3 linked regions of the Homo sapiens genome follow. The protein of the gene in region 2 purifies or fractionates together with the protein of the main gene of each other region. This does not show direct contact. Each region holds a gene or a part of one and is shown on either strand. Other genes may lie near its edges.

Region 1 (3,632 bases), on a different chromosome or scaffold from region 2:
GCTTCTGGCTATCACGTCTTTTAAAGAAAGGGTTTCCACTTCCAAAAGTGGGTAAATTTTAAAATACTCTGAAAGTGGGATGGACCCTCAGTGTCTACACAGATAAACAGAATAATCTTTTTCCTTGCTTCTCCAGCTCATTCACTTGTCTGGTCAGAAAGTCAGAAGTTAGGAGAAAGTGGGCTTCACAATGATTTTAAAATGCATCTTAACCATCTTAATCTAATCCTGGCTCATTCCTCAGACATCTTCTGAAAAGAGCAAACATAAACTTCCCACCTACAGCCACTTAAAGGAGGGCTGATCCTCCCCCTTCAGCAAGGTGTGCAGTAGTGACTGGAGGAGCACTTATGACCTTAGCCATGGGGTTCTGCCACTCCATCCACCGCATCTGCTCTGTGACCTCCTAGCCAGACCCTCCTAACTTGCCCTCAAGGTGTTTTTACCTTTAGCAGAGTCTGTTCTAACATAAGACTTAATATGCCTAGTAATTACTGAACCGGATGTACTTTCAGACATTCCAAAGATGAAGTATTCCAGGATTGTTATCAAGGATTGTACTTGTTCCCCATCTCAGGGGACTATAGTTTGGTCCCAGAGGGGCTGTTCCCCTTTTCCTCCAAAGGAAATACCAGATTTGAACCAATGACAACATTGTGGCTGACAAGACTTAACTCAAGTATTTAATAGCTTCACAAAAAATTCCTAATAAAGAGCTTATTCTGCATAATTAGAAAAGAAAGACACCAAGCCATTTAAACATAATTTATGTACATTTATGGCTTTATACAATTATAGCAAAGATTGTTCTTGTGTCTGTAAGTACATCAACATCAGGCACTTCTCAGAGTATCGGAACAAGAACGTGGAATCTGCACTGTTACTAAACTCGGGTAGCGAAATGCAGGAGGCATGACTACGTCCTGATGGGACTTACATGGCCACCCCTGGCCACACTGCCAGGCTGTGCCCACCTCAAGGAGAGGCCAACTGTAATGCCAGGTTGGTCTGTTCGCATAAACCACAATACATTTTTTTTAATGAATGATTATTCCCAAACTAAAACCAGAAAAGAAACTTCTCTTTTAAAATTAGTTATAAATTAAGAACTCTTAGGAGCTTGAATGTAAGAATTTTAAGTTGGGGCTGGGGTTATTGGTAGCATATATCCAGCAGTTGAACAAGTCCAATTTGTATATCGTTGGAGAATGATTTCCATTTTAAGCATCCTTATCCTCTTCTTGGGATGTTCCATTGATTTACTGCTCACTGGGATACATGTGCTCATTTAGACTTTGTCAGTTTGTCAAAGCAGAACTTTCCAAGTAATACATCTATTACCTAAATATATTCCATACGTCTATATTACGGAAACAATACATCTTTATATTTAAAATATCTGAATAGCTCTATAATACAATATGCTTTTAATAACAGTACAAACCAGAGAAAATAAATCAAACAAGGCTGCATAGGTGATATCATTTGCACATTTCACAAAGCAATCATGTACAATAACTGATATATACTCATTACTCCAGAAAGTCAGTATTCTTACAGGAAAAAAACTACCAGAGGCCACATAATGTTTGCTTTCCAGACAGACCAGATGCCTTTCCCTGGACTTCACTGTTCTCAGAGAGCTACCAAGGATTCATGACAGGATTTCAACACACAATGGGGGCTTGGGAGAGGTATAATTACCCAGACTCAGGAGGAAGATATATTTTCCTAAGAGCTACTCCATGAAGTAGTAAGATTTTAACAGTGATTTTGGCTGTAGTTGCCTCTTTAATGAACAAATGGGGGCTCTGAGGTTCCTTGTATTATGATGCAGTAATGGCACGGGAGGAAAGTGACAGTACGTAGTAATAGAAATTAGTACACAAGTACTTTGGCACCAAGTTCAGTTACATACCCGGGAGGCTGTGCTTAGAGGAACTTGGGTTTCTAAAACCAGCTATGTCTTGGACTGCCCCAAAATGAGGATGATAGAGTGGTGGCTGTTCAATGAATCTTCAAAAAAATGATCATCACAGTGGGAAGCTTACAATAGAGCTGGCTTACTGTAGGAAATCTTATCAGGAACACTTGTGTTCTTGTTAAACATTTAGGAAATACCAAGCCAATGAAGATGCAATTAACATACAAGACAAAGCAAGTGTGATGTGGGCTATATACAGAAAAATTAGATCCTTCTCAAGAACACAAGAGGAACAGTGCTGTGCACCTGTTCTCTTCATTGTGATGACTTTGGGCTTTCCACATGACTTGAAAATACTGATGGACTAAATAGGACACAAAGCCAATTAATTTGGTCTGTCAGTTACAGGTAATTGGAAAGTAATAAAACATAATGATAGGAATTACAGTTTAGGTTGCTACAGGCTAAAGAAATTTTCAAATTCTTAAGCCAAGGCTTTTAACATAATCTCAATGCACAACTTACAGCTGGTTTTCAAATAAATCTCCCCAATTTTTAAGTAAGTTCTATTCCATTTGCTACCCATCTGAACTTATGAACACAAATTCTACAAACCACTCAAGTCCCATTTTTAAATTCCCTCCTTCCACTTAAACTTCCACAGTGTGCTAAGTAATCTAATCTGCAGGGCAGAAGGGAGAATGAGATGAAGTATGAGTGTTGACATAATTCCTCAAGGCAGAACTACAAAACCAACCTCCACCTGGACTGAAACAAGAGCAAAGAATTATGAGGGGAAACTTTTGCTAAAGCTCAACTCAAAATGGTGAAGTGGATCAAAATCCCTCGTTTGACAAAGGACCATTGCTTTAGATGCAGATCTCCCTTTTCTGATCTACAAACATTATGAGGCCTCCCAGGACTACAGAGGTCTCTAGAGAAGACTTGATGCTATGCAGTACGCATAGTTCAGTAGAAGCAGATGAAATTTCTTTAAAATACATACATAAAAACATATTAAGTTATCCTAAATAAGAAACGCAAAGTGTCCATAACTATACATCACTTTCCTGCCCAACCAGGGCCTGAAACGTTGAATATGCAAGTACTAATTACAATGATTTAAGATTAGTCAGAAACATCACTAAGTAGCATCCCAAAGTGTACAAACCAGTTAAGCATGTATAAAATTAGTACTAATCCAGTTAGAATACAAAATGAAAATTATGAATGCTGCCCCAAATACCTGTGGTTCCACAAAATTTACAAGCTGACTATGTAACAAAGTAGACTCTAGTTTTAAGAAAACATTATTACAGTTCAATATCTATTCCAAAAATGTTCTTAAGTCCCAACAATAACATCAAAAATCATTTATCTGGAAATTAGAACCATTTAAATGTTTGTACAAATTTGCAAATAACAAAATAAACAAAAAAAAATAGAAAAGACCTGTACAAAGCTGGCATTTAATCTTTTTTTTTCCAAAAGTTTAACAAGTCCATTAATTTAGCAGATTGATAACAGGCTACTTGGTTCTCATGTGAATTCTGTGGCAACGTGAACAGGTCCAAGGCTGTTCAATGGAGATGCAGAATGGAGATTCAGTTCTTTGTGATCCGTCAGTTCCGCAGAAAACAGGTAGTACAAACAAAAGTTTAACTTATCAAGACATGAGGCCCATCACAGTATTACAAAAAGAGTATAA
Region 2 (3,757 bases):
TGCTCCTCCTTGCCTTCCACCATGATTGTGAGGCCTTCTGAGCCGTGTGGAATTGTAAGTCCATTAAATCTTTCTTTTGTAAATTGCCCAGTCTCGGGTATGTCTTTATCAGCATCGTGAAAACAGACTAAAACAATTACCCTATTTCCTTCAGCAAATTTTATAAATTTTGATTCTATATTACTGTGGTGACAATTACTTCCTATTTTCTATTGTGCTAATGAAGGCATGAGAGATGTCAGCATATGTATCTATGTCACATACTTAGAACACATAAGCCCCCAAATTTCAAGTTATTTAAATTTAAGTATCTTTTTACTTCTGATCATTAATTAACTCAATCAATTATTAATTAAAAAAATAACTAGCTTTGCCAATGGTAGTTAAAGATTAAGTTTAGACACTCTTTTGGAATAACTACTCTTTTTCACTATGGCCATTTGCTTAGCATTTGGCCTTAATAAAAAATGACAGGTGAAATCCAACTCCATCATTTTATAGATGTGAAAACAGGCCTACCAGGAGAGTTAAGTAAACTAGTCAAGGTCATATAACTGATAAACGGCAAATCAAGGTTTTCTTAGTGTATTTTAGTGTATTTTTCATTATACAATACGTAGTGATGTATCAACTACAGATACATACAGAAAGTAATACAGAAAGCAATCACCATAAAAGATATCCTGTTTAAGTAAATTTTGTTTTGGTGTATTTTGAATTTATTCATAGGGTTGCAATGAATTTTGCTGAATGTAATGATGCTACAATAATACTACTGAGGACATTGTTAATTACACAACAGTAGCAAAATGAGAATCTTAGGACAAAACATTTTCTATATGTTACATTTTAATATGATAGATTACATATAGTAAATATTCACATTCAATCCAATAAACACTTGATTTTTTTTTTTTTTTTTGAGACAGAGTCTTGCTCTATTGCCCAGGCTGGAATGCAGTGGTGCTATCTTGGCTCACTGCAACGTCTGCCTCCCGGGTTCAAGTGATTCTCCTCCCTCAGCCTCCCAAGTAGCTGGATTACAGGCACCCGCCACTATGCCTGGCTAATTTTTGTATTTTTAGTAGAGATGAGGGTTTCACCATTTTGGCCAGGCTGGTCTTGAACTCCTGACCTCGTGATCCATCTGCCTCGGCCTCCCAAAGTGCTGGGATTACAGGTGTGAGCCATCGCGCCTAGCCTAAACAATTTTATGCATAACACTGAGTCTCCCACTTAGAAGCAACTGCTTTTATCCTGTGTTGCCCCCTCCTTGCTATGAGCTCCTTAAAGTTAAGCAAATTGGTGAGCTCGAAGGCAAGATTATTATTAAAAGATATATGAATTCTAGCTTAGTATCAAGACCTTTGTCTGAATCAAATCATGATTTTTTGATACATTTAAAATGTGAAATCAAATCAACTAGTTTGTCATGTTACAGAATTTGTTTTACTAACTTGATAAAATACATAAATTACTAAAAAAGTAAAATGATTTAAAAGGTAAATAAATTATAAGATTTCAGTACTTAAAAGGACAATGGTATGCCAAAAGTTTTAAAAAGTTAAGTTTTACAGACCTCTAAGACTCATAGCATATAACACTCCCTAAATTTAAGTTTGACCACAGAATTTCTGTGGGACAAAGCATCACCAAGGACTGGTGCTGGAAGAAATACACTTTGGGAAATATTCTATTATGCCATTGTTCAGAGGACTACAGCTATGCAATGTTATATTACATCCAATTTGCATCTGGATTTAAAATCCAGACAGACATAATAGATATACATGAAATAAGATAACATTAAACAAGCATACAAAATATGTCAAGGCAATTTATAACTATATATAACTATAAAATTGATAATGCTAAGAGCCCAGAAAGGCAAGACCACAGGAGGCTGAGTTAAGAGTAGTCAAGGAAAATTCTGTAATAGTCTTAATCCATAATAGTTTTGAAACTGAAATGCTGATACCTGTCATTGGGTCAATAGCAGCTAAATAAAATGCTAAGGATTTGACATATGTTCACTTAATTCTCCCATAACTCTGTGAAGTACATGTTATTTCTACTTTATAAACCTCAGTTAAAAACTTATCTATGTAGTTAATACCACCGAACTATATACTTAAAAATGGTTAAGATGGTAAATATTATGTTATACGCATTTTCCCACAGTAAAAAAAAAAAAAGGACTCACTTGTCTAGGTCATATAATGTATGTGAAATTCTTACAATGACTTCTACTCCAGCTTCAGTTGCCAGTTTCTTAATAGCTGCGTCTCGTTCCTTTCCAAAGGGCTCAGAATCATACTCAATTGAAAGTTTAGTAATGTTCCATTCCTAAAGTAAGAGAAAGGGGAACAATGTACACCAATTGTAATAGTTATTTTTTCTATTATAACGAAAAGTGAAAAAGCTGAAAATCTACATATCAAAGGATTATACATAAATCAAACTTTGAATATGCAGGAAAAAGTAAACAATTTATCAATTAAAAAATACATAAGTAATGAATGCATAACCCATTAGATTCTAGGCATTATGCTAGGCAACAATCTAGCAAAGCAATATGCTTAAAACCAGCTCTTATACTAAATGTGTTTGTAGAGCACTTTACTTTTTCAAATTACTCATACTTACATTATTTCATTTGAGCCTCAAAACAACACTCAGAGTTTGGCACTTTGGTTAGTATTTCCATTTTGGAGATAAGTTTATTTTTAAAACTTAGGGACCTGCCAGAGTTCACAGAAAGCCAGACCACCTGAATTTATGTCTGTTGAGTCTAAGAACTGGTCTTTAACTAACCTTTGATATTGATATGGTATAAGCTGCCTGGCTGAGGTCGTGTGTGTGTGTGTATGTAAATATTTTCTTTCTGATTACTAAAAAACGTTAACTGAAAAATTTGGAGATGGTAATAATAATAGCAGTTACTTATTATCAGGAGCTATGTTAATAAGTTCTGTACATCTCCTTATACTGATTTTAAATGAGGAAACTGTGACTTAAAGGAATTGATTTTTCTTAAGGAGAAAGTTTTTTTTTTATTCTAAGTCTATTCTGATTTATCTCATAAAGAAAAAATTCTACCATTATTTAACTGCCTATATGGTAACATACTATAATTCACCAAACACCTCCAGATTAGACAAGGGCTATTCCAATGGTGGGTTTAAAAAAATTGCTATTCTAGGCGGCGTGCGGTGGCTCATGCCTGTAATCCTAGCACTCTGGGAGGCTGGGGTGGGTGGATCACCTGAGGTCAGGAGTTCAAGACCAGCCTGGCCAGCATGGTGAAACCCCGTCTCTACTAAAAATAAAATCATTAGCTGGGTATGGTGGCACATGCTTGTAATTCCAGCTACTCGGGAGGCTGAGGAAGTAGAATCACTTGAACCCGGGAGGTGGAGGTTGCAGTGTGCCACTGCACTCCAGACTGAGCGACAGGAGCGAGGCTCCATCTCAAAAAAAAAAAATTGCTATTATAAACTTTACAGTATATATCTTTACCTTTATGCACACATCTTACAAATTATAGGGTATTTATCCAATTTTTTCCTAGAAATAATCCCTTGAAAAACAACTGATGGATCAAAGATAAGCACATTCAAAATTCTGATAGGCTGTCAAATTATGTACCAGAAAGACTGTACAAATTTATATTCCCATCAGCAGTGCACCTAAGGCTTGATCTCCACACACTTGCCAATAATATGTATTAGTAATCTTTTTTTTTTTTTTTTTTAGA
Region 3 (3,757 bases), on a different chromosome or scaffold from region 2:
ATGGGGCACACTCACAGATTGTGTGGTAAGTTACTAAGAGAACAGAAGGGTTCTAAGGGGTGTAGAGAACCGGTGGAGGTGTTTTCAACGTTATAAAACTTTTTATTTTGTAGGTAATGAGAGACCCCCAAACAAAACGTTCCAGGGGCTTTGGTTTTGTGACTTATTCTTGTGTTGAAGAGGTGGATGCAGCAATGTGTGCTCGACCACACAAGGTTGATGGGCGTGTAGTGGAACCAAAGAGAGCTGTTTCTAGAGAGGTATTTTAATAATACATTGTGTAATATGTGAAATTGTTGTGAAAGTTTGTTTCTTGACTTAATATATTACTTTATTTGTAGGATTCTGTAAAGCCTGGTGCCCATCTAACAGTGAAGAAAATTTTTGTTGGTGGTATTAAAGAAGATACAGAAGAATATAATTTGAGAGACTACTTTGAAAAGTATGGCAAGATTGAAACCATAGAAGTTATGGAAGACAGGCAGAGTGGAAAAAAGAGAGGATTTGCTTTTGTAACTTTTGATGATCATGATACAGTTGATAAAATTGTTGGTAAGTAGCAATTTATGGTAACTTGAATGAGAAAGTAGAACTGGTTTTTCTGTTTTGAACTAAATTTGCTAAATTGTAATTTTCTGTTGCGTGTAATGGCATTTATAGTGTATAGTCAATTTTCATAGTGTCTGCCTGTGTAATCAGTATCCAGATCAAGAAATAAACATAAACATCTCAGAATGCTCCTTCATTACCAGAGTCACTACCTGATTATGTCTTAATGGGTTACATAATGACAGAGGGTATCTCATATATGTGCTTTTCCAAACATAAAATAACTTTTTGTTTTGTTTGATTGAAAAAAAATTTAGTTCAGAAATACCACACTATTAATGGGCATAATTGTGAAGTGAAAAAGGCCCTTTCTAAACAAGAGATGCAGTCTGCTGGATCACAGAGAGGTGAGTAGGACCATACACATGTATACAGTGGATATGAGTGGTGTTTGTAAGGTTCTTAAAAATCTCCCTTGCCTGTATTAAAGGTCGTGGAGGTGGATCTGGCAATTTTATGGGTCGCGGAGGGAACTTTGGAGGTGGTGGAGGTAATTTTGGCCGTGGTGGAAACTTTGGTGGAAGAGGTAGGCTGTTTATCTTCTAAGTACATGGATACCTGACATTTTGGTAAGTTGAATATATTATTTTAATTCATTTCTTGTTTTTCCTCAGGAGGCTATGGTGGTGGAGGTGGTGGCAGCAGAGGTAGTTATGGAGGAGGTGATGGTGGATATAATGGATTTGGAGGTGATGGTAGGTGGCTTATTTTCATTGATGTTTGATATTTTAACTTTCTTTACTTATTGAAAATTATTTATTACACTTTTCTAATTTTAGTTAAAACTTCAGTGGCTAAATGGTTAAGGTGTATTTCCAAACTGTACATGGAAGAACAGGAACCCTTTTTCCCCTGGAGAGACATTAGCTGCTCTTTTTCAGCAAGTAGTAGGGGTTGAGCTAGAATTGTTCTATTAAGTCTGAGACTATATTTTTCTTAGTGAAATTTTGTAAAATGAAAACTGATTTTCTTTTTTACTATCAGAAGATGGGTTACACATTTATTTTTCATTCTTACTAGTGCAGATACTTGATACTCTATTATTATTAGGTATTACCAGGCTTCAGAGTGCTAAATCAATTCATTGGCTTATTTGCCAGTGGCTTAAATGTAATATAAAACCAGAGTTGAGTAATTCTAGCTATTCAGGAGGCTGAGGCAGAGGGGTTGCTTGAGGTGAGGATTTTGAGACTAGTCTGAGCAACATAAGGAGACCGTATATCTAGAAAAATAAAATAGGGGAACATGGTGGCACATGCCCATAGTCTAGCTACTCAGGAGACTGAGGTGGGAGAATGGCTTGAGCCCAGGAGTTCAAGGCTGCATTGCTGTGGTTGCACCACTGTACTTGAGCCCGGGCAACAGAGCAAGACCCAGTCTCTTACACACACACCAGAATTGAATAACGTGACTATACACTTAAGTTTTTGTGTGGTCTTGTTATTTGTTGTTTTTTTAGGTGGCAACTATGGCGGTGGTCCTGGTTATAGTAGTAGAGGGGGCTATGGTGGTGGTGGACCAGGATATGGAAACCAAGGTGGTGGATATGGTGGAGGTGGAGGATATGATGGTTACAATGAAGGAGGAAATTTTGGCGGTGGTAAGCATTCACTTGTTTTATTTAAATGTTAAATATTCAGTGTTGCTAACAGTTCCCATGACACATATTTGGAAAGTGTTAAAAGCGTTTGATCAAATTTTATGTTCTATAAGAAAAATACTAAAATGGTTGGTAGTTCAAACCAAATTTTCTTGACTTTGCTGGTTATTTAGTAAAATGTACAAATGTACTCAGCTCTCTTTTTTCTTTTTTTTTTTTTTTTTTTTTTTTTTTGAGATGGAGTCTTGCTCTGTTGCCCAGGCTGGAGTGCAGTGGCGTGATCTCAGCTCATTGCAATCTCCGCCTCCCGGGTTCATGCGATTCTCCTGCCTCAGCCTCCCTAGTAGCTGGGACTACAGGCGTATGCCAGCACGCCCGGTTAATTTTTTTGCATTTTTAGTAGAGATGGGGTTTCACCATGTTAGCCAGGATGGTCTCGATCTCCTGACCTTGTGATCTGCCCGCTTCTGCCTCCCAAAGTACTGGGATTACAGGCATGAGCCACTGCACTCAGCCAAATGTACTGAATTTTTAGTTGAGTAGTAAAAAATGGACATTTACCAGTATTCAGTACATGTTTTACGTGTAAAAGATTGGGAGTTTATTTATTGCCAAAATTTTACTTAACTCCTTGGTACTTTTAAACTGGACAACCGGGAATAAATTGTTTGAATACTCCAGACGTGTTGAAGTGAGCAGGTTGCCATCTAGGGCCCAGGTTAACAAAGTACTTTGGGTCTTAATATAATATGTCACAGGTAGTTGAAGCGTTTAAGCAAGCTAGTGTATGTAGGTCATTAAGCCACAATACTGTTAAAAGCTTTCTTAGGAATGCACTGTTTTATTGGACCTAATTAACATGTCAATGACAGATGAGTGGAAGTTTTAACAAGTTAGAATGCCTTCTCATTGTTTTAAATGTTATACTGCTTCAGAATCATAGTGAATGGAACACTGGCAATTTTAATGGTGTTAATGGTAGAGAGAACATGCGCCTAGAGGACAGCATTTAATATAAACAAAATGTTGATGGTCTTTTAATATCCTGACATCAGTTACCCCAAGTGGTGCTACCACAGTGATGTGTATAAGCATGCTACCATAATTCTCAAAAGATAATAGTTACATACGTTAAAAGGGGAAAATGATGATTGTGTAGGTAAACCACACATAAAACCTTTCTGATTTCAGGTAACTATGGTGGTGGTGGGAACTATAATGATTTTGGAAATTATAGTGGACAACAGCAATCAAATTATGGACCCATGAAAGGGGGCAGTTTTGGTGGAAGAAGCTCGGGCAGTCCCTATGGTGGTAAGTACTTTCTTAAATCAATTCTTTAGAGCCTTTTTAATTTAAAAAATGTGCATACTTCTTTTAAAATACTATGTATATTTTCAGGTGGTTATGGATCTGGTGGTGGAAGTGGTGGATATGGTAGCAGAAGGTTCTAAAAACAGCAGAAAAGGGTAGGTATCTTTAAATTTTTATTATGATGATAAAAGAATATGTGGAACTGTTCACTGAGTGTAATAATTTTTTTATCCT

Evidence for each region.
Region 1: the proteins of CRY1 (region 2) and FOXO1 purify together in Homo sapiens (affinity purification with western blotting; 2 studies listed by BioGRID). This does not show direct contact.
Region 3: the proteins of CRY1 (region 2) and HNRNPA3 purify together in Homo sapiens (affinity purification with mass spectrometry; 2 studies listed by BioGRID and IntAct, with this or other methods). This does not show direct contact.

What each region holds. Positions count from the first base shown.
Region 1 is NC_000013.11:40,555,010-40,558,641, forward strand, and holds the end of FOXO1 (forkhead box protein O1), read right to left. Parts: 3' UTR 658-3,632; downstream 1-657. UniProt on the Homo sapiens protein: Transcription factor that is the main target of insulin signaling and regulates metabolic homeostasis in response to oxidative stress.
Region 2 is NC_000012.12:107,002,903-107,006,659, forward strand, and holds part of CRY1 (cryptochrome-1), read right to left. Parts: intron 2,347-3,757; coding exon 2,204-2,346; intron 1-2,203.
Region 3 is NC_000002.12:177,215,637-177,219,393, forward strand, and holds part of HNRNPA3 (heterogeneous nuclear ribonucleoprotein A3), read left to right. Parts: coding exon 1-25; intron 26-113; coding exon 114-260; intron 261-341; coding exon 342-552; intron 553-866; coding exon 867-956; intron 957-1,039; coding exon 1,040-1,135; intron 1,136-1,223; coding exon 1,224-1,304; intron 1,305-2,068; coding exon 2,069-2,209; intron 2,210-3,400; coding exon 3,401-3,523; intron 3,524-3,610; coding exon 3,611-3,663; 3' UTR 3,664-3,678; intron 3,679-3,757. UniProt on the Homo sapiens protein: Plays a role in cytoplasmic trafficking of RNA. Binds to the cis-acting response element, A2RE. May be involved in pre-mRNA splicing.